7 linked regions of the Homo sapiens genome follow. The protein of the gene in region 7 purifies or fractionates together with the protein of the main gene of each other region. This does not show direct contact. Each region holds a gene or a part of one and is shown on either strand. Other genes may lie near its edges. The genes, in order: MATN2, TIMP3, FBLN1, HCN1, ZNF260, PFKP and NELL1.

Region 1 (3,500 bases), on a different chromosome or scaffold from region 7:
CAGGTGTGGCTCTTGGAGAGGGCCTGCCTGGGTCTTGGGAATGCTCCCCCTTGTCCTCCTTCCTGGGATCTGCAGATCCATCATCTACTGCCCCAACCCAGGGCTATATGCTAAACCACAGGAGCCTTCATGAAAATTAGAAAAGCACTCCTGCCTTTTTTTTTTTTTTTTTTTTTTTTCTGAGGTGGAGTCTTGCACTGTCACCTGGGCTGGAGTGCAGTGGCGCCATCTCAGCTCACTGCAACCTCCGCCTCCTGGGTTCAAGTGATTCTCCCGCCTCAGCCTCCCAAGTAGCTGGGACTACAGGTGCGTGCCACCATGCCTGACTAATTTTTTGTATTTTTAGTAGATTTGGCGCTTCACCATGTTAGCCAAGATGGTCTCAATCTCCTGACCTTGTGATCCTCCCGCCTCGGCCTCCCAAAGTGCTGGGATTACAGGCGTGAGCCACTGCACCTGGCTGAAAAGCACCCCCCTTAAGGTGCCTCTTAGGGTGGCTCAGCCCCTGGGGCTCAGGGCTTGGCTGGATTTCAGTTCCTCTCACCTCCTTGAGCAGGTGCCTGTGTGCAGCACCAACCACATAGCCATAGCTGTAACCCTGCCCCTACCCAGCCTGGGGCTGGACACGAGTGAGGGCTGATGGAGGGGTGGGGAGAGCCTGTACATGCAGCCAGCACACGTCGGGAGTTCCCAAGTGCTGGATCCTTCATTACATCATTTCCTTAAATTCTTACAGCTGCCCAACGAGGTGGATATTGGTTGCACCTCTGTATATTTTTTTCTTTTTCTAAATTATGAAAGATTTCAAACTCTCAGTGCTCCCATGTTCTCATCTATGCAATGGGTATGATGCTTCTTGATCCTTTCTCAAAAACTTGTTCTGAAAATCAAATCACACCAAGTGACAAAGTGCTCTGGAAATGTTAGGTTTCATATAGATCTTATCGCTGAACCCTCAAAGGCTCACTTTCTGGGGCCTCTGTTTTGAGACACTCACCCTGGACTCACCCAGCCCTCAGGGTTATGCATGGGTATGTCAGAACGTTGGTTTCTTGCCAGGCTACTGGTATTTGTGGGTGCCTCCTCCCCTAAAATCATTAGACTTGTGAGGCGGCAAGGATGAGTTGTGTGTGCAGGCACTCAGGGACGAGTCACAGCCTGGCAAGCTGGCCTGGACAGGATGACTTCATGGGCCTTTCCCACTTCTCATTTTTATGACTAGCTTTACTGTTTCATTTTGGCTTTCTCTCTCTTTCTTGCAGCTGTGGTGATTAGGATTTAGGGCAAGCATTTGGGATCCCTTTTCTAATACCTTTCAAATCCTGATTCAGCTGCAAAGTCCGGGAAGGGAGTAGAGAATGGGGGAGGAGGGACTCACCCTGGTGAAAGGCAGTAGCTCAGAATATCCGAGAAACTCCCAACAGGAATGCCCAGCCTCCACCCACTAAAGCTGGAGGCCTCTCATCTCATCCAATATCACCCTCGTACTAGAAACGCAAAAGGGATGAGTTTGTCTATGGACTCAAACCTTTACAGTCTTCTTGCTTAGCAGCTTAAGGCATAATTATGGTAGTCATGGTGGTAAGGGACTTAACATTTGCCTTTTTCCAATTTAACTGTGTCCTTTGTTGAAATATTTCTTAGTCAGGTCCCCTTTTCTCTATTTCCACTACTGTCCTAGGATTAGATCTGAGTCCCCCTCTCAATGAGATTAGTCCAGAAATTGTGTATACCATCCATCTTGCAAACCACTGCCAGACTCTGTTGACTTTTCATTATGTAACTTCCCTATGGGAGAGGTGAGTTACATAATATGATGCTAAGATGCCCCTCACTGGTGGCATCATGTACATATTTCTCAGTCTGAAAGGAAAGGTCTTTTTAAACTGGCTTCAGGCCATCTGTCCAACTAATTCCTGCCTGCAACTCCTAGTATACCCTCTACTACAAGGTCTCATCACTTATTCTGTTACCCACCACATTCATTCCGTCTTGGGCTTTGGTTCATGTGATCCACTCGATGTGCTCCTTCTCTCTAATCCAAACACCACGCATCTATAAGGTCAGCTCACGTCCCATCTCCTTGACCCCAGCCCATTCATATCCCTATTCTCTTAGCAGCTATTGTCAGGACGACACAGTTTTCATGCCAGTTATTCTTTCATGGTTTTATTAGTTAATTCTCCCCAGGTAGATTAGAAGCTCCTTAACTTTGGACCCTGTCCTAAGCTTCTGTTATATTCTCTGCAGTGCCCAGCCAAGCTTATGTGTCATGCAGTAAAGAATAAAATAATTTTGACCCTGATCAGGTGTTTGGTTACATAAAAACTGCATTGGCAACTTTCTAGAAACTAATATATTCATTTATCTTGCAAAAAGGATTGCTATCTGATTATAGCCAGTAGTCATGATCTTCCAGCCATGCACAAATATACCCTTATAACTTTCATGAGTGGGGAGGAAAATTGATGAAGGAGGTTTCAAAGGTGATCATCAGTCCCAGGATTTCCAACAATAGCCAGTCTGCCCTGGGTCCTTAACTCTCTTTTAATGTTTTTATTCTTATTTTTATTTTTTTAATGCAGTCTCACTCTTGTTGCCCAGGCTGGAGTTCAATGGCACTCTCTTGGCTCACTGCAACCTGTGCTTGCTGGATTCAAGTGATTCTCCTACCTCAGCCTCTCGAGTAGCTGGGAATACAGGTGCCGCCACCACACCCGGCTAATTTTTGTATTTTTAGTAGAGACAGGGTTTTACAGTGTTGACCAGGCTGGTCTTGAATTCCTGACCTCAGGTGATCCACCCGCCTTCCAAAGTGCTGGGATTACAGGTGTGAGCCACCACACCTGGCCTCTCTTCTAATGTATTTGACCTCTCCTCTTTCCCCAGAGAGTTCCTGTGAGAACAAGCGGGCAGACCTGGTTTTCATCATTGACAGCTCTCGCAGTGTCAACACCCATGACTATGCAAAGGTCAAGGAGTTCATCGTGGACATCTTGCAATTCTTGGACATTGGTCCTGATGTCACCCGAGTGGGCCTGCTCCAATATGGCAGCACTGTCAAGAATGAGTTCTCCCTCAAGACCTTCAAGAGGAAGTCCGAGGTGGAGCGTGCTGTCAAGAGGATGCGGCATCTGTCCACGGGCACCATGACTGGGCTGGCCATCCAGTATGCCCTGAACATCGCATTCTCAGAAGCAGAGGGGGCCCGGCCCCTGAGGGAGAATGTGCCACGGGTCATAATGATCGTGACAGATGGGAGACCTCAGGACTCCGTGGCCGAGGTGGCTGCTAAGGCACGGGACACGGGCATCCTAATCTTTGCCATTGGTGTGGGCCAGGTAGACTTCAACACCTTGAAGTCCATTGGGAGTGAGCCCCATGAGGACCATGTCTTCCTTGTGGCCAATTTCAGCCAGATTGAGACGCTGACCTCCGTGTTCCAGAAGAAGTTGTGCAGTAAGTCCTGCTCCTTTGTCACTCTTCTAGAGGAACCACTA
Region 2 (3,500 bases), on a different chromosome or scaffold from region 7:
CCCTTTCTCCTAAGTCCCTTCCTCAGCTCTTAACAAGAGTAGTTAAAGCTGGTTTAGAACTTCAGACATAAGTGGGTTGTTCTTTTTCAGCTGGGTTCTGCATGCCTCTGGGCCCCTCTTCTTCTTCTTGGTAGCATCTACACAAAGTTCCAAGATGTTAGCTTCCCTTGGAGTGAAGGGACAAATAAAGTAAAAAAGAAGTTTCTGAGTCTGGGGACATTTGCATATTTCTTATGAAATGTCTGGCCTTCACTCTACATTGACAGCATGAGTTGCCTCAATGATTCCAACTATGTCTTGCATGCCTACCAAAGATCAACACTGTTCTGGATGCTGGTGTACATCACGGACTCATTTAAACCCACAAATTCTTATTTACAGACCGACCGAGCTATCACGGCCATGATCTTTCTCTATACAGCAATTTGTCTAGCAGGACAGGCAGAGAATGTAGAAATGGAGCCAGTCTCTGCAGAGGGCTGGATGAGAGTCCTAAGGCAGGAAGAACCACGGGCATTGCAAGAAGAATGGTTCCCTGTGGGCTGGGGGTCAAAGATGCTTCCAGCTAGAGCTTCAAAGGCGAGACCCTGCTATTGCTCATTTGGTTAGACAAACCACTAAAGGAAGGAAGTCCCTGGAGGTCTGCTCTGCCTACAGTCAGGACATGCAAAGCACATGACCAGCGGGTCTCCCCATGGGACCCTCCCAGGACCAGCTGGGACATAATGTCCCCCACGTTCTGTCCCCTGCAGCCAGCTGGAGAGCATGTCTCCGCTACATAAACAATAACTCCTGGCACAGTGGATCGGTTTCTCATGGTCCTGATGGGAGATAAGGTCCCCACAGCTTAGAGCAGCCAGTTCTGGAAACTTTCACCTTCACCCCACAGCCCAGCTAATTTCCAAGTTTGGGATTGCAATAAGCTCTCTCAACATTCTAACACCCTGCTCCCTCACACACACACACATATCGCAGGTCTCTGTGTACTGAAGTGTTCCTGAGAGATGGGTCAGAGGCTCCAGAGTTAGCAGACGGGAGAAGGTCTGCCTGCCTTCCATCAGTGAGAGAAGAGAGAGGTCAGACAGGGCGGCTCGGAGTCTCAGGTTCTCCAAGTTCCTTTAGTCCTGCTCTAAGGAAGCCCTTGCTCACCCCTTCTGACTCTCTAGGGTAGACTGTCTAATCTGCTAGAACAAAGTCTCCCAGGGACCAGTGCCAAAACTCATGCAGGCTTGCCTCTCTGGCCTCTCTCTCTTCCCTCCTACAAAGATTTTTCTGATACACCCTTTGCAGGATATTACAAGTCCAGCCCTACACTGCTGGATGATAAACCAACAAACCCAAACTGACCTCTTTTTGTTCCCTGGGAACTAAAAACATATGGAGTGGGCATTTATATACCCCAAAGTGGGTAGGAATGATGAATCAGCCTGCTGCTCCATACTGTATTATCTCCTTATAGGCAAAGACCCTGTAGTTTTGCTCAGGTTTGCCACTTTGTGGCCATATAATCTTAACAGTTATATGACCTCCCAGGTCTCAGTTGCCTCACCTGTCAAACAGAGGACAAGGTGTTATCTATTTTACAGTGTTAGTATAAGTACTGATCTATGCAAAGACCTAGCAGAATGCCTGGCACTAAGCAATTGCTCAGTAAATGTTAACTGATGCCAAGTCTTATCATAATTATAAGCAGTGTTATCTTTGTATCCCCAGTTCATAGTACAGTACTAAGCACAGAGAGAGGGTGGGAAGGAAGCACGAGAGGATGGATGGACGGACTATTACTTCTAGCCTGTATCTTGTCTGACTTGCAGGCTGGTACCTAGAGACAAGCAGATTCCAGTGGTGTCTCTGGATAGAAGGGCACTGACCAGTTCTATGGATCATGATACCCTCTATGGAGGGTCAGAGTGAATGAAAGGCATGAGATGGTGACTGATGATTAAGATGGCAGGGAGATTTGGGAGTCATATAAAGAACACAGGATTGGGAAGAAATTCCGATGCCTCAGCTTGGGGATCAGATCTGCCCTTAGTTAAATGCTTGACTCTGAGTAAGTCATTTCCCCTTTGCGCCTCTGTCAGAAGTAAGACGAGGGATCCTACATCTAATTCCCAGCACCATGATTCATGAGCTCAGGCGAAGGATGGTGAACCGAAAGCCTAAGCCCACCAGTCTGGGAGTGGGAGTGTGTCTTCTAAGCCCACCAGCCTGGGAGTGGGAGTGTCTGATGCTGATAGGCTAGCAAGTGTTGTTTGGTCTCTAAACAACCACCCGTGGCTGGTCTGACACCAGCAAGGGGGAATGGGACATTATGTCCACAGGAAGGGCCTCTGGTCACCCTGGTCTCCAGGCCCTGATGGTAGGAAGGAAACCAGGCAGGCTTAGGAACTGCTGCCTCCCAGCTATTTCCCTCTCAGCTCTCTGCTGACCACCGAGTGTCTCGTAATGAGGATTGTTCCAGACCAGGCAGGTTCGTGTGTTTTCTGAACCTCTGCTTTGGTCTAATATGCTTTGGCATTCCCGCGCTGTCTGCCAGAGGTTGCAAAGTGGGCTTTTTGCGTTGTTGTTGCTCTTGCTGGTTCCCCACCCCTGCCCATTTTTCTCTCCCCAGGGCTGTCTGAAGACATAAGCTGGTCTCATGACCAAGCTTAGGCAGCCAAGGGCAACTGGCCAGGGCTGACTCTGGACATTACATAACCAGAAGGCTGTGGATGTTTGCAAAATTGAATCCAAAGCAACAGGTTCCACAAAATTAGTACATCCAGCCTCAGGACACAGGAATAAGAAAGCCTGGAGGTTGGCCTTGGGGATGGTTGGGTACCACCGTGGGCTGCGTCACTCCTCCACTCCCTTCTACCTGGACATTGCGGCTTGTCTCCTCTGGGGAGTTTCCAGGCCTGTGGGGTCTCACCCTCATGCCCGTATTAGACAGATAAGCATTCACCAAGTCACTTTTGCATGCCAGGTCCTACCCTAATTGCTAGGGATGCAAATATGAGCAATAAGTTAAAGGGCTGGACAGTTCCTGTGGACCTCAGCACACCCCACATTGAACTTCTGATGAGTCACACACATACCTGCCTCTTCTCTCCCAACCTGACTCTAGTTCCTAAAGATGGAAACTGTATCTCCCTCACGGCCTCCCTGGCTCCTAGCTGGGAGCTCTGCATGTAGAGAGGTGCTTACAAAGATGGGGTGATGAACCAGTTGCTGAGTTATTCAAGGTGAAGCCCCAGTCTTCTGTGCTAAGGCAATCACCAGTACACCCTTCCATTGTATACCACCCGCTCCTCCTTACAAGTAACATGGCCCGCATCCCAGGGTGCTTAGAATGCCTGAGCTAGAGAGGATGTTAGGAGCACCAAGCCCAACCCCACACTGTTAACAGGTGGCAAAACTGCGGCCCAGGAAAAGGGACAAGCCCAAGGTAAGCAGGCTATTTAGGAGTAGAGGTGAGACTAGGAGGCAGGTTCTCTAGATTTCAAATCTGGTGTTCT
Region 3 (3,500 bases), on a different chromosome or scaffold from region 7:
GGCCTGCCTCTAACTTCGTGTTGGAGTTAGGCTTTCCCCACCCGCAGAGACAGGGAGAAGCACCCTGGCCTTCCGGATGACGACATTCCCCAGGCATGTCCCCAGCCCTTGAGAAAGACACTCCTTGGTTGCACATCTCAAAGGGACAGAGAAACCGTTTACATTTGCAAGTTTTTCTAAAGTAGATGCTTCTAAGGAACATGGAGGTCAGCGCCTGTAGTCAGGTTTGGGCTGGAACCAAGAGAAAATTCTTTTGGCAGCATTGATCTTTCTCAGACAGGCATGTCAAGGGGGCTGGGTCTACATCCTGGATACCTGGTCTTGGGCCAATGGCAGCCACGCTGAAGTTGGGTCAGGTCTCTTGGTATGTGGGGGTTGGACAGAGTTGTTCCTGCCAACAGTCTTGTGGTTCTCAGATAACACCAACCTCCTGGGCTGATGGGAAGGTCACATGAACTGCATGTCAGCCCAGGGCCTGGCACATACTAGGTGCTTGGCAGATGTCGTGTCTTGTATACGGATTAGGTTCTGAGCTGAGCAGACACTGAGAGCTTTGGATGGCCCTCCACAATCGTCCACATTGCCGATGACACCCTGTTTGGTGCCGTGCACTGGCTCACAGGACGGCTTCTGCAGCCTGACTCAAACATGGCAGGTCCTAACATTTTGCCATGAGAATTTTCCTTCCTGATGAGATGGTCGCAGGGGTTGGATATGCCACAGTGAGCTGTGGTGTGCATGATTCTCAAATCGGAGGACGGACGGTGTGAGGGGTCCTGGGCTTAGTTCACAAGAACGTGTATGGACAAGGAACAAGATTCACGAGTTGAGTCTCTCAGGCTTGTGTTCAAACCTGACTTCTGCCATTTCCATGGCCTTGAAGAAGTAACTCAGTCTTTCCTGGGCCATGGTGTCCTCATCTGTAAAACGGGCATAGTAGGACCAACCCCATAGGGGGTTGTGAGGATGAAACGAGATTAAGCATGTGAAGAGCTTATCACAGGGCCAAGCACAGGATGAAGAGCTGGCGGTGTGGAGGCTGCTGGCTTTATTATTATTTAGTAGAAGTAGTGGGATTCCTGGCTTGTGCTTCCTCTAGTCATTCATAAATTGCTGAAAAGTCGGCATTCATATCCACATTAGTGGACAATATTGTGGATATAGAACCAGAGCCTGGCCAACCTTGCTATGTGACCTTACTAACCATTTGTTAGGGTCCTGCCCCGGGTGTGTAGCAAGAACTCGGTCCTGCACTGGGGAGTGTCTCTAGCGGGGGATGAGAGACCACACTGGACAGGTGGAGGCCAGGCCTGGTGTGTGGGGGCCACAGAGATGAAACACGGGGTGGAAGGCTATTGGACGTTCTGTGACAGCCACATAGTATAGATTTAAGGCTTTTCCAGCCACAATCTCTGTTGCAACCGCTGAACTCTGCTGTGGTAGCAGAGAAGTGGCCAGAGGACCATGGTAAAAGAATGAGTGTGGCAGGGCACAGTGGCTCACACCTGTAATCCCAGCACTTTGGGAGGCTGAGGCAGGTGGATTACTTGAGGTCAGGAGTTCGAGACCAGTATGGCCAACATCGTGAAACCCTGTGTCTACTAAAAATACAAAAATTAGCCGGGCATGGTGGTGCACACCTGTAATCCCCCAGCTACTCAGGAGGCTGAGGCAGGAGAACTGCTTGAATTCATGTCCACATTTAGTGGACAATAGCCTCCCGGAGGTGGAGATTGCAGTGAGCTGAGATTGAGCTACTTGTACTCCAGCCTGGGCGACAGACAAAGACTTTGTCTCAAAAAAAAAAAGAGTGAATGTGGCTGTATTCTTTATTTTATTGTTATTATTATTTTGAGACGGAGTCTCGCTCTGTCGCCCAGGCTGGAGTGCAGTGGTGTGATCTTGGCTCACTGCAACCTCTGCCTCCTTGTTCAAGCAATTCTCCTGCTTCAGCCTCCCGAGAAGTTGTGACTACAGGTGCGTGCCACCATGCCTGGCTAATTCTTGTATTTTTAGTAGAGATGGGTTTCATCATGCTGGCCAGGCTGGTCTCGAACCCCTGACCTCGTGATCCGCCCACCTCGGCCTCCCGAAGTGCTGGAATTACAGGCATGAGCCACCATGCCTTGCCGGGCTGTGTTCTAATAAAACTTTATTTATAAAAACAAGTGTTGGGACAAATTTGGCCCATAGACTATGATTTGCTGACCTCTGCTTTAGGTAAAGGGGACAGTTGAGCAGTAGTTCAGAGTTGCTGAGTGGCCCAGTGAGTTCTGTGCATTGGAGTATGAGGAGTACTGGCGTATGGGCTGGGTGGCCGAGGACTTCCTTGTGTGCCGTCATCTGTTTAGGATGCCATCTTGGAGGTGAAGTGGAGAGCACAGGATCAGATTTCCATTTGAGAACTAGAATGGACTCTGGCAGCCAGGTCGGGGCAGACTTCCAGGGGCCAAGGCTGGAGGCGATCGCTGCCATCCTGGCAGGAGAAGTTGTGGTCGAAGCAGGCAGGAGCAGGGATGGAGGGTCCGGAGCCACCAGCGATGACGCCTCTCCCTCGGCCACACCCCCCGGGACCTCTGTCTCTCCGAGTGTGTTAACCTGAGGGAGGTGGAGAGGAGATTTTCTGTTCACTGACCCTGAGGGCTACTGTGGAGGCAGGGACGTATGATGCTCTGAGCGGTGACCCTCGTTTTGTATTTCAGACATCAATGAGTGCAGCAGCAGCCCCTGTAGCCAGGAGTGTGCCAACGTCTACGGCTCCTACCAGTGTTACTGCCGGCGAGGCTACCAGCTCAGCGATGTGGATGGAGTCACCTGTGAAGGTGCGGACGCCCCTGCCTGCTGAGGGGGAAAGCACCCCCTGGTCTTGCCATGACACAGCAGCACGGCCTCTGACTTTCAAAATCCACAGGGAAGAGCCTGCTGGGATTTCTTCACCTGACAAACCTTCCATGTCCACCCTTGGAGGCAAGCGGGTGGTTTGCTGTTTTCCCTCCAACTGAGGTTTTTTTTTTTTTTTTTTTTTTTTTTTGAGACACGGTCTTGCTCTGTTGCCCAGGCTGGAGTGATATGGTGCAATCACTGCTCACTGCAGCCTCAGCTTCCCAGGCTCAAGTGATCCTCCCACCTCAGCCTCCCAAGTAGTTGGGACCATAGGTGTATACCACCATGCCTGGCTAATTTTTTATTTTTAAAAAATTAGAGACGGGGCCTTGCTGTGTTGCCCAGGCTGGTCTCGAACTCCGTGGCTCAAGTGATCCTCTTGCTTCAGCCTCCCAAATTGCTGGGATTACAGGCATGAGCCACCGTGCCTGGCCCCCAACTGAAATTCTAATATACTTTTCCCATCCTTAAGCGTGAGGGTGGGAAGGCAGCAAACCACTCCTGACTTGTTCTTTAATAAATGTGCACGGCGGTAATTACAACATGCACTGGGACCTTGGGCCGCATATCTCAGGTCTTGGTGGTGGTGCATGGCTGAGAGGTAAGGAGGGGGCTCA
Region 4 (3,500 bases), on a different chromosome or scaffold from region 7:
TGAAGATAGGGATATGAACTCCTTTGCTTGATGATGGTTTAACTCAGATCTTTGGAAACTCCAGTTGGCTGAGCCCTCTCAGGTCCCACCCACTGCCTAACAACAGATGCTCTATTCAGCAAAATATGGGCCTGATTGGTCAGATTCACTCCATTTATTCACTATACTCTTTGTGTTTTCTATGTACTAATGTCCCTCATGAATATGTTCCTTTTTAGTATTATGAAATGAACTAATAGGGAGAAACTAAAATAAGTTACTATAGGCAAGGCATAACAATAAGCAAAATTAATATGCTAAAATCAAAGCCTTTATATATACAATTTGGAAATAAAGAAACAATCTGTTTTACCCAATCATGAATTCAATGAAACTTCAATATTAGAGGATACAAAAACCACACTATCTCACAGAGCTAATGATGTGCCAGATTAGCAATCAGACCCTACACATCTTTATCAAAATAATGGTACTTGATGTATTTATATTAGATTAAAAAAAACCAAGGTGGGAAAGGGGTTGTATTGATCAAGATAATAATTGCTGATTAAAGTGCATTTATTTAAAAATAAAATAAATTGGCATAAAACGATCACTATTTTTTTCAGTTCATTCAAATCCATTATTTGATCATATATTTTAGGGATACAAATATATCACTTATGCATGGAAAAGAGTCGTCGAATACATTTTTCTACTTGAATTTCATAAAACTCATTACACATTGCACAGTTGTTCATTGTAAAACAGCCATAATTAACAATTTCATGATATAGATTTAAAAAAGAAAAAGATGCATCTTACCTCTTCCCATTGATGTATGTATCTAATTAACCTTGAAAGTCGTAATAAACGCAAGAGACTGAGAATTTTTGTAAACCTCACAATGCGAAGTGCCCTGGCTGTCTTGTAAACTTCAGAATCCATTCCTTTTTCTACAATAAGAAAGATATAATCCACTGGGATGGATGAGATGAAGTCAACCACAAACCAGCTTTTTAAATAATTCATCTTGATCACTTTGGGGTCCAGGATGATTTCAGAACTGTCTTCATTGACAGTCCCAGTCCTAAAATTCATGATCAGGTCCAATAGGAAAACTGTATCTGATGCCACATTGAAAATAATCCATGGTGTTGTTGTTTGCTCTGTAAAGAATGTGATTCCAACTGGTATGATGACTAGATTTCCAACCATCATTATAAGCATTATTAAATCCCAGTAAAACCTACAACAAATAAAAAAATCAGATTTTAAGATATAGAAAATAACCAGCCTATCCCCCCCATGAAAAATTATTACTGATATATAGTGAGATCAATAAGTAAAAGAACAAAGAAATGATTTTATTTTTTAAAAATGTAATTCCTTAAATGGCTATATGTTTAAATCTAAGTAAAATTAATATATTCTTAAACCAAGGCATTATGATTATGGAATTCTAAAAATTATGTGATATGAAGCATTATACAAATAAAATCAAAAACATTCATACCCCCATTTATTTAGTAAAGAGGCAAAAAAAGCAACCTACCTTATACTTAATACAAAATATAGACAGAAACTAGAAAGAAGTATAAGATTAGAAGATCTGTAAGAAAGCCTTTGGGAAGGCTCTTTGAAGATGTTTTGAATTATTTTAGATGTCAATTTACCAATCATAGATTAGAAAAAAAAACCCAGAAATAAATAGGATACTCTAACAATTTTAGTTATGCAAATTTATCTCAAGGAATACAGATTAGTTTTGCCATGGAATCTAGAATACACTGGAGTTTTGCAGTACTCCAAATATTTTATGCTTTATTTTTCTTTTGCTTGAAATAAGAAAACTAATTTTGGTCTGATGCTAAAAAGAACTGAGCAAGTTCTACTCCATATTTGAAACTAGAATCTACCTAAAATTTGTGTTTTTATTACTACTCTATTGAACAACTACTTCAAATATATTGCCACTACTTTTCCATAAAAATTCTTTCTTTCTTTCTTTTTTTTTTTTTTTTTTTTGAGACGGAGTTTCATTCTTGTTGCCCAGGTTGGAGTACAATGGCACAATCTCAGCTCACTGAAACCTCCGCCTCCCAAGTTCAAGTGATTCTCCTCCCGCCTCAGCCTCCCGAGTAGCTGGCATTACAGGCGTGCCACCATGCCCAGCTAAAAAAAAATCTTTAACATTTCTAATTTAATTCTGAACATGCCTATGACTACTAAGTACCTTTTGAAATATTCTTATCTCAACTTACATTAAAATTGAGAGAAAACCAGGAACTTCATTGCTGGTTTATATAGCTTAACTAAATTAACTAAATTCACTTGACATAACTATAGTGTTATTTTTATAAGGGTTCTTTCAGTCTGTTGACACTCCTATTAATCAAATATTTATAGTTGTTACAGTATATACTTGCAAAAATGAAAAAATAAACACAACTGTATAATCATGAAATGTATCCAGAAACATGAGTTACTTTATCCTAGTCATAGGTATGTTATTTGAGGAGTTTTGTATAAACAATATAAACTTCCATGATAAAAATGTCTGTTTACCAAGATATTTTTGTTTTACATGAATACTCCTACTTAGACTATTTGAGCTACATTTTGGTGAGGTATACATGTGTATAAAGCTTTCAAAGTTACTATCATCTGTAATTAAGAATGACTCCTGAAATAAAAGTACTAGTTGAAGAAAAAACTATAATAGGCCCTATCTCCCCTGTCTCCAGCCTCAGGATGTTGTAAAGGATAAGCGTTTGTTATTTTGAAGATTTCACCAGTATTTCTGTCAAAACTTGCCTGCAATTTTTGAAACAACTGTACAAATACCCATGTCAGCCATACAACATGTACTGGCAGTTTAAATGAAATGGTTTTATATCTTCTCACAATGGAAATGCAAAATATACCATTCAACACAATAAGGACAGAGGAGAGATGTAGAGGAGGAGCAATATTGTAACAGCTATTTCACAAAGAAATGGCACCACTAAACTCTAAAATGAAACTGTGTGTACCCTGAGGATTTTTCACTTCTGGGCACTCCTATCAAGTCCCTTCTGTAAGCTTCTCTCTCTGCCCTCCCCTTCAAGGCTGTTGTTCCCCTGGGTGTCACACATAGCCCTTTCATCTTCTATTCTACGCATTGCCCTTGAGAAATATTATACACTTATCCATGCCTTTAATAATTAATTTGTAACTGATGACCCCAAAAGCTTTATCTTCAGTCCATTCCTATCTTCTAAGCCTCCTAATCCTCATAATCAGTAGCCCGTTAAATCTCTCTCCTGGCATATCTCACACTCATCTCAAACAGCATGCCTAAGCTCAAACTCATAATCTCCTCTCCCACATATATTCCTCACATATCCCCTATCTCAGGGAATGGAATAACTCTATGTGTGATTTGCAAGCCAGAAACCATGGAGCCATCCTAAATAACTCCTGGCCCTAAATCTGCTCAAACCCATATCCAATTGATCACCAAGGCTGTTTAGTTCTCA
Region 5 (3,500 bases), on a different chromosome or scaffold from region 7:
AAGTCCAGTGTCATTTTTCTGCTCACAAGTTTAAAGTCAGCACTTAAAAGAACAGCAACAGATGATTGAGAAAGAAATGTAAAGAAGGTTCTCTTTGTGTGAGTAAGCAAGAACCTGGTAGGTATGAATGAGATAAAGACTTATTGCAGTTATTCAGTGAGAATTTGCAGCCTCTGAGTTGTTGTGGGGTTTTTTTGTTTGTTTGTTTGTTTGTTTTTTTGAGATTTTCGTACTAGCCTTTGTCTTTTAGAGTGACTGTTGCTGGGAATTCTTTAGATACCTAAATGACATTTCCAGACTGTCTTCCTGAATCTATGCATCCCTTTTATCAGATTCTAGAGGACTGATTGCTCTTCTAAAATCTATTCTGGATGCCAGTCATTCTACATCATTTGCAGCCTCAATTTTATGATTTTTTTACAGCCTCAATTTCACTTTTCTTCCTTTCACTAACATTCTCCATTTTTCACTTTTCCCTGTATGCCTAGATGCGTTTCCTTAAGCATTCAGTCCTTCATAGATCTGTTAGTTTTCAAAAACTAGCATGTCGTTAAGAGTCATCACCACTCCCTAATCTTAAGTACCCAGGGACACAAACACTGCGGAAGGCCGCAGGGTCCTCTGCCTAGGAAAACCAGAGACCTTTGTTCACTTGTTTATCTACTGACCTTCCCTCCACTATTGTCCTATGACCCTGCCAAATCCCCCTCTGCGAGAAACACCCAAGAATGATCAATAAAAAAAAAAAAAAAAACTAGCATGTAAGTTATTTTCTTTAAAATGTAATCATTCTGGCCAGGCGTGGTGGCTCACGCCTGTAATCCCAGCACTTTGGGAGGCCGAGGCTGGCGGATCACGAGGTCAGGAGATCACGACCATCCTGGCTAACACGGTGAAACCCCGTCTTTACTAAAAATACAAAAACAAAATTAGCCAGGTGTGGTGGCGGGCGCCTGTAGTTCCAGCTACTCAGGAGGCTGAGGTGGGAGAATGGCGTGAACCTGGGAGGTGGAACTTGCAGTGAGCTGAGATTGTGCCAGTGCACTCCAGCCTGGGCAACAGAGTGAGACTCTGTCTAAAAAATAATAATAATAAATAAAATAAATTAATCATTCTATGTATAACTATTATGTATCAATAAAAAAACTTTCAAAGACTAGCAAGTAGATTCTTTTCTTTACATTTTAACTTTCTATCATTCTTTCTCCTTCCATTGTTATATTCCTCAGAATTGAATTTTGCTTCCTTACTCTTGTTTTCTATTGTCTTCCTACCTCCAGCCATCATAGTTCAACACTATGTCACCTCCTGCTTTTTAACAATATTACAGGCTTAGGGATTAGTGCTGACTTCCTATTAGTTCATTACCCTGTTAATTTTAAAAAGAAATAATAATGGCTGGGTATGGTGGTGCACGCCTGTAATCCCAGCACTTTGGGAGGCTGCGGCAGGTGGATCATGAGGTCAGGAGTTTGAGACCAGCCTGACCAACATGGTGAAACCCAGTCTCTACTAAAAATACAAAAATTAGCCTGGCGAGGTGGCACACGCCTGTAATCCCAGCTACTCAGGAGCCTGAGGCAGAAGAATCACTTGAACCTGGGAGGCGGAGGTTGCAGTGAGCCGAGATCATGCCACTGCACTCCAGTCTGGGCGACAGAGTGAGACTCCCATCTCAAAAAAAAAAAAAAAAAGAAATAATACTATTATTATCAAAATTTAATATGTATACTTGATAGAAAATTAAAACAATCAGGTATGTCTCTTCATTCCTGGCCCTCAATCCCCTGTTTCCCAGAAGCAGCCACTGTTAACAGTGTCTGCTGTATGCTTCTAAATGTTTTTATGAGGATACAAAAAGGCTTTCAAGTAGAGCAGTGATGTGATTGGACTGTGACAAGATTACTGTGGCTGCTGTGTTGAGAACTGTAAAGAGTTGAAAGCTAAAGTAGCAAGACTGGTAAGGAGGCTGTTAAATAATCCTGGCAAGACATGTGGCTTAGACCTTGGTGGTCACAGTGAGGATTGTCCAAAATAGCCAGTAAGCTACGAGGTTGTAAAGAGTGTGCAATCTGACTGAAAGAGAAGTATTGTTTGAGCAGCAAGGAGAATGAGATTGCTATTTAAAGAGATGAGAAGAATTTGAGAGGAGTTGGTTTGGGAGCTGGAGCAAGAGTTTGAATAGGGGCAGGGTAAGTTAGATCACTATTAGACATCCAAGTGGAAATGTTGAGTAGTCAGCTGGATATTTGAATTGATTGTTGAGGAGAGAGGTCCAGGCTGGTGATTAGTATTTGTTAGGCATCTCAGATTCATGATATGTAAAGCAATAAGAAGTGTACTAATCACAGTAAAGCTAAGTGACTATAATAAACTTCAAAGTGCCAGTTTAAGGAATGTAGGAATTGATTTCTTGGTCACATAACACTCATGTGGTGAATAGTCCAGATTTGCATGCTAACTTTGGTGCTTATGGTCCCTGAAACATATGGATTCCTCCGAGGTTCTCTCTTTATTATCTGGTTGTGGTTGGAGCTGGATCAACAATGCAACCTGGTTTCAGCCAGATAGAAGATGGAGGAATTGCTACTCTAGGACAGGAGTTCAGCAAGCTTTTTCTGTAAAGGGCCAGATGGTTAATATTTAAGTCTTTGTAGGCTACAGGGTCTCCATTGCAGCTACTTATCTCAAGCATTATACTGTGAAAGTAGTCATGGACAAGAAAATAAATAAACATGGCCATGTTCCAGAAAAACTCTTTTAGTTTGCCAACCTTGTGGTGTTTTTTTTTATTTTATTTATTTATTTATTTTTTGAGATGGAGTTTCACTCTTGTTGCCTAGGCCAGAGTGCAATGGTGTGATCTCGGCTCACTACAACCTCCATCTCCCAGGTTCAAGCGATTCTCCTGCCTCCACCTCCTGTGTAGCTGGCATTACAGGAACATGTCACCACGCCCAGCTAATTTTTTGTATTTCTAGTAGAGACAGGGTTTCACTATGTTGGCCAGTCTCGTCTCGAACTCCTGACCTCAGGTGATCCACTCACCTCGGCCTCCCAAAGTGCTGGGATTACAGGCGTGAGCCACCGAGCCTGGCGTCAACCCTTGTTTTAACAGGTCACTATTTACACATAATACAATTAAGAGTTTGCTTGCCATTAGAGCATTTTGACTTATATTTTGAAAGCATTTTTCATTTTATTTTATTTTTTTTATTTGTTTGAGATGAAGTCTCACACTGTCACCTGGGCTGGAGTGCAGTGGCGCGATCTCGGCTCACTGCAAGCTCTGCCTCCCAGGTTCAAGCGATTCTGCTGCCTCATCCTCCCAAGTAGCTGGGATAACAGGCGCCCACCACCAAGCATAGCTAATTTTTTGTATTTTTAGTAGAGACGGGGTTTCACCATGTTGGCCAGACTGGTCTCAAACTCCCGACCTTGTGATCTGCCTGCCTCCACCTCCCAAAGTGCTGGGATTACAGGCGTGAGCCACCGCACCC
Region 6 (3,500 bases), on a different chromosome or scaffold from region 7:
GATCTCCTGACCTCGTGATCCGCCCGCCTCGGCCTCCCAAAGTGCTGGGATTACAGGCGTGAGCCACCGCGCCCGGCCCAACTTCAGTTTTAAAGGACCCCAGCGAGCTGGAGGGACACAGTGTGAGGGCTGAAAGGCGGATGCTAGTGTCCCAGGCTGCTGGGGACCCGGCTCGCCCCACGGCTGAGTGGCCGTTTGATTCCTCATCTGTAAATGGGATGATCTAAAACCTGGCTTAGATGGCTGTCGTGAGGATTCCATAAAGCTATCTGTGTGAAAGGTCGAAGGGTGCCTGGCACATGGTAAGGTTAAATTACTAGCATTCTTACGATCATTGCTGTTGTTTTTTGAGATCCTAAAAAGTCCTGAGATGGTGACCTGTAAGATCTGTGAGAAGAGGTACTTCTGCCACAGTGAAGAGGGAAACCTGTCGGTTCCAAAGCTCTGAAACAGGGCGAAAACCCGCAGGACAGAGGAGCAGGTGTCCACTCACCGTTCCTGGCCAGCTCCTCCAGCAGCCCACTCCACTCCTTCCGGAAGAGGTTGGCCCCGGTGAGGCTCCCGTCCCCGCCGATCACACACAGGTTGGTGATGCCGCGCTGCAGCAGGTTGCAAGCAGCCTTCAGGCGGCCTTCCCGCGTGCGGAAGGCCTGGCACCGCGCACTGCCAATGATCGTCCCGCCCTGGGAAAGACACCAGCTAATTTATCTCCTCTCAGTCTGAGAGAGCGCCAGGTGGATGGCACACACAGGCCGACTATAAACATGGGGTGCTAGAATTTACATTTTTCTCATTTTCATCTTGTGAGTTAGTAACTAGCTATGAAAGACTGTGATTTTCCTGTTTTTAGTCCCAGACCAGCATTCCATGGACAAAGACAGGCGCGTGACACCCAGGAGGAGCCAGGGAGGGTGCAGAGCCAGACACACGGCAGCCAGCAGTTAAATACATGGAGCAGGAACCAGCCTGCGGTGTCACAGCAGCCGCCTCAGCACCGGCCAACGAGCTCAACCAGGTGCACGTGGAACCAAAGACAAGCCCACTGACCACCAGAGCATGCCGGCCAGGACAAGGGAAGCGGTGTGACCAGCAGCCAGGCTTCTCCCTCCAGTCACCCCTTACAGCACCTGCAAGTAAAACCAGCAGGAACCTGGGGCCAGGGGGATTTTTTTTTTTTTTTTTTTTGCACCACATACTCGCTGCCCCTTTTAAAGAGCTATATCTTCAGGATCTTAAATTCTTTCATCCAAACTTCCAGGGGACATAGATCATGATTCGTCACACTTGGTTTTCCAAAAACTAAGAATTGTTGGTGGGATCCACAAATGCAAGATTTCTTTAAATAAAACCATGAATGCACCAAAAAACTCCATCCGTACGGGATCCCTAAGCGCGTGCTGACTTTGTCAAGCAAGGTGCTCATAAGCACAGCAGGGGTTGTCTCTGCACTGGAGGCGAAGCTCTCCCTGCCTTCGGTCTGCAGGCAGCTCCCAGGAGACCCCTGCAGTGACGTGAGTGCGTGTTTCGATACACCAATGGTGCACGCACACAGCTCATTTTCACACACAGAGACTCACTAATATTCCAAATCCCAGAAAAGCTCCTATTTTTACATGAAACCTACCACCATTTAATTTATCAAAACATTATGAAAAGGTTACAAAAACTGAAATTCACTCCACACGATCCTACGTCACTGGCACCAAGTGTGACCGAGACCATTTACAACCCAACCCCCAAGGCAAGTGAGGGTGGGGGCGCAGAGCAGGGCAGGGGTGCTCTCTGGACTCTGCCTGGACAAAAACCTGGGGGGCAGCACGAGAGCCAGCACAATGGGAGCTAGAGCCAGCAACCCAGAAACTCCAACCAAAGAGACGAGGTGGCCGCAACTCAGGAACGAAACCAGGATAACTGGGCTGCAGAGGAGTGGGTGCCATTCCCATTCTCTCACTCACTCTCTTTCACACACACACACACACACACACACACACCACACACCTACACATACAAGGACACCACATATACACACACCCCACACACAGATACACATTCGCTAGCCAGAAATTCACACAGTTAACACATACACACGGGCACACCACACATACACACTCAGACTCACACACCTACATACAGACACACACCAGACTCACACAGTTACACACACACCGAGATTCACACACCACATACACCACACACAGAAACACAGACTCACTGATACACATACGCACTTCAACTCTCCGTTCACATCTTATCTTCCTCCGTCAATCACGACCGCAGAATGGAAACGCTCCCCTGTGTGAATTCAGCCCACACTCTCCTGATGTTTTGCAAACGTTGCTCCACCTAACTTCCGTGGTTGTCAAAATTCCCTCCACCTCTCTTCTGATGTGTCGGAGCTCAGGAGGCGCCCAATGCAGAGAGAGCCTGGACCAGCACGAAGGTGTGGGCCCCATGAGCGTCTTCAGCGGGGAGGCACCGATTTGGATTATTTCTATTAACAAGTACTCAAAGTGACTCACAGATTAACACATGCATTTCTAAAAATCAAACCACAAGTAAAGAGCTGCTCACAAAGTCTGTTCTGTCCACATAATCTCTATTTCGCAACTGATCTGAGCTCAAGTGTTCTGGGAATTTACTAGACATAAAAGAGTCTCTAACTCAGAGAACCCTGTGGACGCAGCCCAGTACCTACCACTTGCAGGATGCTGGAGACACTCTCCCAGTCGGCCTCTGCGATGTTTGAGCCTCCGTCCACCATGCCCTGGTAGCCCTAGGGGAGAAAGGGAGAATCTTTTAAAAATGAGATAAACTTCACTAAATGGGAAGTGATCCTTAAATTATATAAAACGGGAAAAATGACAGTGAATGTCAGTTCCTCAGCATCCACTGGTCAGAAGACAGGGCAGTTCCAGCACTGGATAAAAGCAGTGAATTGTGGGAAAGTCCTCACCTTGAGTCCCTAGTAATGGGAACGTCTGCCTAGACTCAGCCTCACAGTGCAATGAGGAATCAAGCCATTCTCCTATGGCCCAGCGTTTCCCGAGAGGTTGAAAGGGTCGTGTTTCGCTAGAGGTTGAAAGGGGTCACTTTCACCCAACGTGTTTATCATACTTCAGCACAAACTCACAGGCACACAGCACTGTCGAGCACGGGACATACATGGGAGCATTTTGTCAGGGGCTCCGCCTGCCAAGGCACCCTGCGCCACTTGGGATGTATGTTGAATATTATTAAACAGCACAGCTGAATAATAATTGTCTGCCTTACCCTCCATTAATGACACGGTGCTGCATTAGGGAATCAGATATCAATATGTGAGGACACATTGATAGAAGAAGCCCAAGGACAATTACCTTTTTTTTTTTTTTTTTTGAGACGGAGTCTCACTCTGTCACCCAGGCTGGAGTGCAGTGGCGCGATCTCGGCTCACTGCAACCTGCCTCCCGGGTTGAAGTGATTCTCCTGCCTCAGCCTCCTGAGCAGCTGGGATTACAGGT
Region 7 (3,500 bases):
ATGAGTAGGCATTTAAGAAGGTTCAGCACTATGAAATGTATGTATAATGCGACTGGACTCTACATACATATTTTCATCAAAACATTTTACAGGGATCTCAGCACTAAGTATGCAGTAGATGGGACAAAAGTCACAACAGGCAACTTTATTTTAGAATTTGATCCATAAATCAACAAAATAAATAAAAGGAGCTGAGTCTCTCTCTATTATGTTAGTACACAAAATAAACCAAAAAATACATCAACATTTACCATGAGATCATTTAAATGTATTTGCAAATGATCTGATAAGGGAAACATGATTTACAACACGGGAAACTTCTTTTAACAACCATTGACTTAAATGCACGGCACTGTAGGTCACCTAGACTAGGTTAGCAAGAATGAGCAAAGTGGTAGGTCCAAAAGGCAACCTCCAAACACCGTCCTCAGGTGGAAACTTTGGCAATTATCTGTGGTTAAAAAAACAAAACAAACAAAAAAACCAAACTACCGATTCCTATCCTTAATCACGTTGGATGGTCATTTCGTCCATTCTTCTGCGTTGAGTCCACTGTAAATACTTCAATTATTTTGAAGACACTCAAAATCCACAGAACAACAGACTCTTCCATTCTGTACATCAAAGAAACATGTGTTAGCCAGTTGAGACATGGAATATAAATTAGCAGTCTGCAATTTTTATACTCAAAACAACTTTCAGCATTTTGAGACAAACTTCAAGAAGGCTATAAAAAATGACTAGAAAAAAATGCTAGGAAAAAAACTAGAGAAAGAGTAGAAAGAAAGGAAGGACTGACAGACCCTCCAGGGTACTGCTCACTGGGATTCTGCTAGCAGTTCAATTTCACACATCACCTGCACTCAATCCCTGCTTGGGAGGCCTCCCTGGGATTTCCAACTTTTCACATGACCTGTTTGCTGTACTTATTCCAAGCGAGATTCTTTCCAAAAATAAATCCCTAAAAGATAGCAATTTGTCATTTAAGAAGCTATTTGAAAGTACCCCCAACAATCTTCAGGCAAGTCCAAGATGGGGTCCAGTAAGGTTTGCATAAAATCTCTCATGGTGACTATGAAGGGGATAGTGCATAGTTAGGTATATAAATACTTATAAATTCATTAAAAATTTTATGTACTAATGTAAATATACCTTTATAATTCCACATAATTATCAAATAAGTAACAGAGGTCTCCCTGTGTCCTGGTCATTTAGTTCTCTGGGACTGAAGGTACAGATGGGACCATGGACCTTTTTCTATATGAGGTCTGATAGTATCCTTTTTCTACTGGGGCTACATCTTAAGATGATACTTTCCCAGAAAAAAAAAATCTACATTTATAACAGCATAAAGAGGCAAGTTGGGAAGCTTCCACTGATGCTTGAAGCTGAGCCAGGGTTTGATGGGACCAAGTAGGCTCCTAGTTTTAACATGTTTAATCATGGGAATCTTAAACAGATATTTTGGCAGATATTTGACACTAACTAATGATTGTTCCAAATCAGCTACCACTCCAGCTCTTCATGAGCTTTGAAGGGAGAGAATGGTCAGTTTTTTAGTCTTAATGACACATGAGGATGTCTCATGAAAACCCCTCCAAAAAGACAGGGAAATAATCACTGTTAATGAAATGCTGTAGCAAGAGCTGCAGGTCCCCACCTTAGGCACTCTGATAATTAAACAAAGCAAAACAACTTGAGAGGACTTTTTTCCCCTAACATTGACAGTTTAATAAAAGAACTTAGAAACTTTTCCAGGATGAAAGGAAGTTGACTGGTTTCCTTCCTTCCTCCCTCTTTCCCTCCCTCCCTTCCTTCCTTCTTTTCTTTCTACTTCCCTTCCTTGTTCTTTCCCTTTCTTTCTTTTCTTTTTATTTAATATGCATGTCAAAAGAGCCTAAGTTAGTCATAATTAAGCCAAGAATCACTTGTCAAAATTATGTAGTTCAAAGGCAGGAGCAATTCTTTTATTTCATGCTCATTTGGAATTTGCCTTTTTACAGGGTGCAGCTATGATAATATTCATACATATTAAATTCCTATGAGAAGTAAATGTATGCCAGAGTTTCCACCATGTCCATTGAACCTGTGTATTCAGAAACATCAGGAGTGGACCTCCTGCAAGTGTTCTCTGGCAATTGTTCAAGGCTTCAATATCCGCAGAACATCCAATTACCTTGCATTTACAGGTTGTGCAGGGAGATCCAGCCATCGTCCACACTGAGCCACTAAGCCGTGAAACACCATAGCTGTCCAGGCAAGTTTTTCTGATGTCATAGGTGATGTTATCAGCTAGGCAGGGGTCACTGACACAGCGGGGACAACATTCCCCTTCTAAGATAGCTGTATACTCACAGCTCAAGTTGGGGCAAGTGAGTGGCCAGCAATCTACCTCTCCTTCCTGTAGAGGAAAAGCAAAAAATGTCTCATTATTGTTCCTATGCATAATTTTATTCCCAAAGTCATAGAAGGGGAAAGAGAGCACAGTAATTCTCATCACTGAATATTTCTAGTTGACACCATTGAGGATAAAGTACACTTCCTCCTTGAAGACCTACTACAGGTCTCACTTCTTTCAGAATGCTTTTGCTGATCATCTATACTGCAGGACATAGAAAGAGCTAGGTGAGCTTCTTTGTGTGCCAAGCACAGCCTATAATTATTTTAACATGATACTTATATCATAATTAGCACAATTCCACATTAAGTTTTGAGCTTTCAGACTTTCTGCTTGTTACTTTCTCTCCATCATGTTTAGCACAGTTTTGGTCAATAAAGGCTAATAAATAAATTATAAGGTACTGTCTAGTATATAAAGAGCAATTAATTTCTCTTAAGTTCAAAAGCAGAACCTGAAGCACTGTAATATTTCAATCAAATTTAAAGTTAAGATTGGGCAATGTCAAGATAACCATTTCAGAATGGTTTTGAATATAACATGTGACCACTGAACTTTCTAGATTGCAGTTCAAATGGAGCTTTTGTGTGTCTCAGCATCTGGCATCTGTGGCTTCATTGAGCTGCCCACAATAAAACTATTTCACTATGCATCCTCTTCCTCTGCTATCATGAATTATAATCTATGGCATAATACCTTACAATATATGGCAACTTATTTAATTGTTCAGTCATCTCCATAAGACTGTGGGCTTTGTGTAGGTATAGGCCATGTTTATCTTGCTCACTGTTACGTCATACAAAGTTTGGCACATGAAAAGTCTTGAATATTTATTAAGTATGACCCACAGTATTCTCAAGTAATTCATAAGTTATGTGTTTAACAGCTTCAATTTTCCTGAGAAATATTCATCTTAGGGGCTAGGATGGAAGAGGATACACTTTTGAAATTCTATCTATGAAAATTTCATGCATCAAATTAATACTAATTCTTCTGGATGCCTGATGATTAGCTTCTTGGAAAAGAAATGCAATTTGCCAGTCTCATAGGGAAACTAATTCTACAGTTGTATTGACTTTTTTTGTCCTTGGGTGGGAGTTTT

The links.
Region 1: the proteins of NELL1 (region 7) and MATN2 purify together in Homo sapiens (affinity purification with mass spectrometry; 2 studies listed by BioGRID and IntAct, with this or other methods). This does not show direct contact.
Region 2: the proteins of NELL1 (region 7) and TIMP3 purify together in Homo sapiens (affinity purification with mass spectrometry; 2 studies listed by BioGRID and IntAct, with this or other methods). This does not show direct contact.
Region 3: the proteins of NELL1 (region 7) and FBLN1 purify together in Homo sapiens (affinity purification with mass spectrometry; 2 studies listed by BioGRID and IntAct, with this or other methods). This does not show direct contact.
Region 4: the proteins of NELL1 (region 7) and HCN1 purify together in Homo sapiens (co-immunoprecipitation; one large-scale study listed by IntAct). This does not show direct contact.
Region 5: the proteins of NELL1 (region 7) and ZNF260 purify together in Homo sapiens (affinity purification with mass spectrometry; 2 studies listed by BioGRID and IntAct, with this or other methods). This does not show direct contact.
Region 6: the proteins of NELL1 (region 7) and PFKP purify together in Homo sapiens (affinity purification with mass spectrometry; 2 studies listed by BioGRID and IntAct, with this or other methods). This does not show direct contact.

What each region holds. Positions count from the first base shown.
Region 1 is NC_000008.11:97,928,064-97,931,563, forward strand, and holds part of MATN2 (matrilin-2 isoform a precursor), read left to right. Parts: intron 1-2,889; coding exon 2,890-3,459; intron 3,460-3,500.
Region 2 is NC_000022.11:32,850,205-32,853,704, reverse strand, and holds part of TIMP3 (metalloproteinase inhibitor 3 precursor), read right to left. Parts: intron 1-3,500.
Region 3 is NC_000022.11:45,544,383-45,547,882, forward strand, and holds part of FBLN1 (fibulin-1 isoform D precursor), read left to right. Parts: intron 1-2,702; coding exon 2,703-2,822; intron 2,823-3,500. UniProt on the Homo sapiens protein: Incorporated into fibronectin-containing matrix fibers. May play a role in cell adhesion and migration along protein fibers within the extracellular matrix (ECM).
Region 4 is NC_000005.10:45,644,381-45,647,880, forward strand, and holds part of HCN1 (potassium/sodium hyperpolarization-activated cyclic nucleotide-gated channel 1), read right to left. Parts: intron 1,229-3,500; coding exon 805-1,228; intron 1-804. UniProt on the Homo sapiens protein: Hyperpolarization-activated ion channel that are permeable to sodium and potassium ions. Displays lower selectivity for K(+) over Na(+) ions.
Region 5 is NC_000019.10:36,521,772-36,525,271, reverse strand, and holds part of ZNF260 (zinc finger protein 260), read left to right. Parts: 5' UTR 1-117; intron 118-3,500. UniProt on the Homo sapiens protein: Transcription factor that acts as a cardiac regulator and an effector of alpha1-adrenergic signaling. Binds to PE response elements (PERE) present in the promoter of genes such as ANF/NPPA and acts as a direct transcriptional activator of NPPA.
Region 6 is NC_000010.11:3,098,548-3,102,047, reverse strand, and holds part of PFKP (ATP-dependent 6-phosphofructokinase, platelet type), read right to left. Parts: intron 2,774-3,500; coding exon 2,696-2,773; intron 1,128-2,695; coding exon of another isoform or gene 1,048-1,127; intron 684-1,047; coding exon 494-683; intron 1-493. UniProt on the Homo sapiens protein: Catalyzes the phosphorylation of D-fructose 6-phosphate to fructose 1,6-bisphosphate by ATP, the first committing step of glycolysis.
Region 7 is NC_000011.10:21,572,086-21,575,585, reverse strand, and holds part of NELL1 (protein kinase C-binding protein NELL1 isoform 1 precursor), read right to left. Parts: intron 2,402-3,500; coding exon 2,177-2,401; intron 615-2,176; coding exon 564-614; 3' UTR 1-563. UniProt on the Homo sapiens protein: Plays a role in the control of cell growth and differentiation. Promotes osteoblast cell differentiation and terminal mineralization.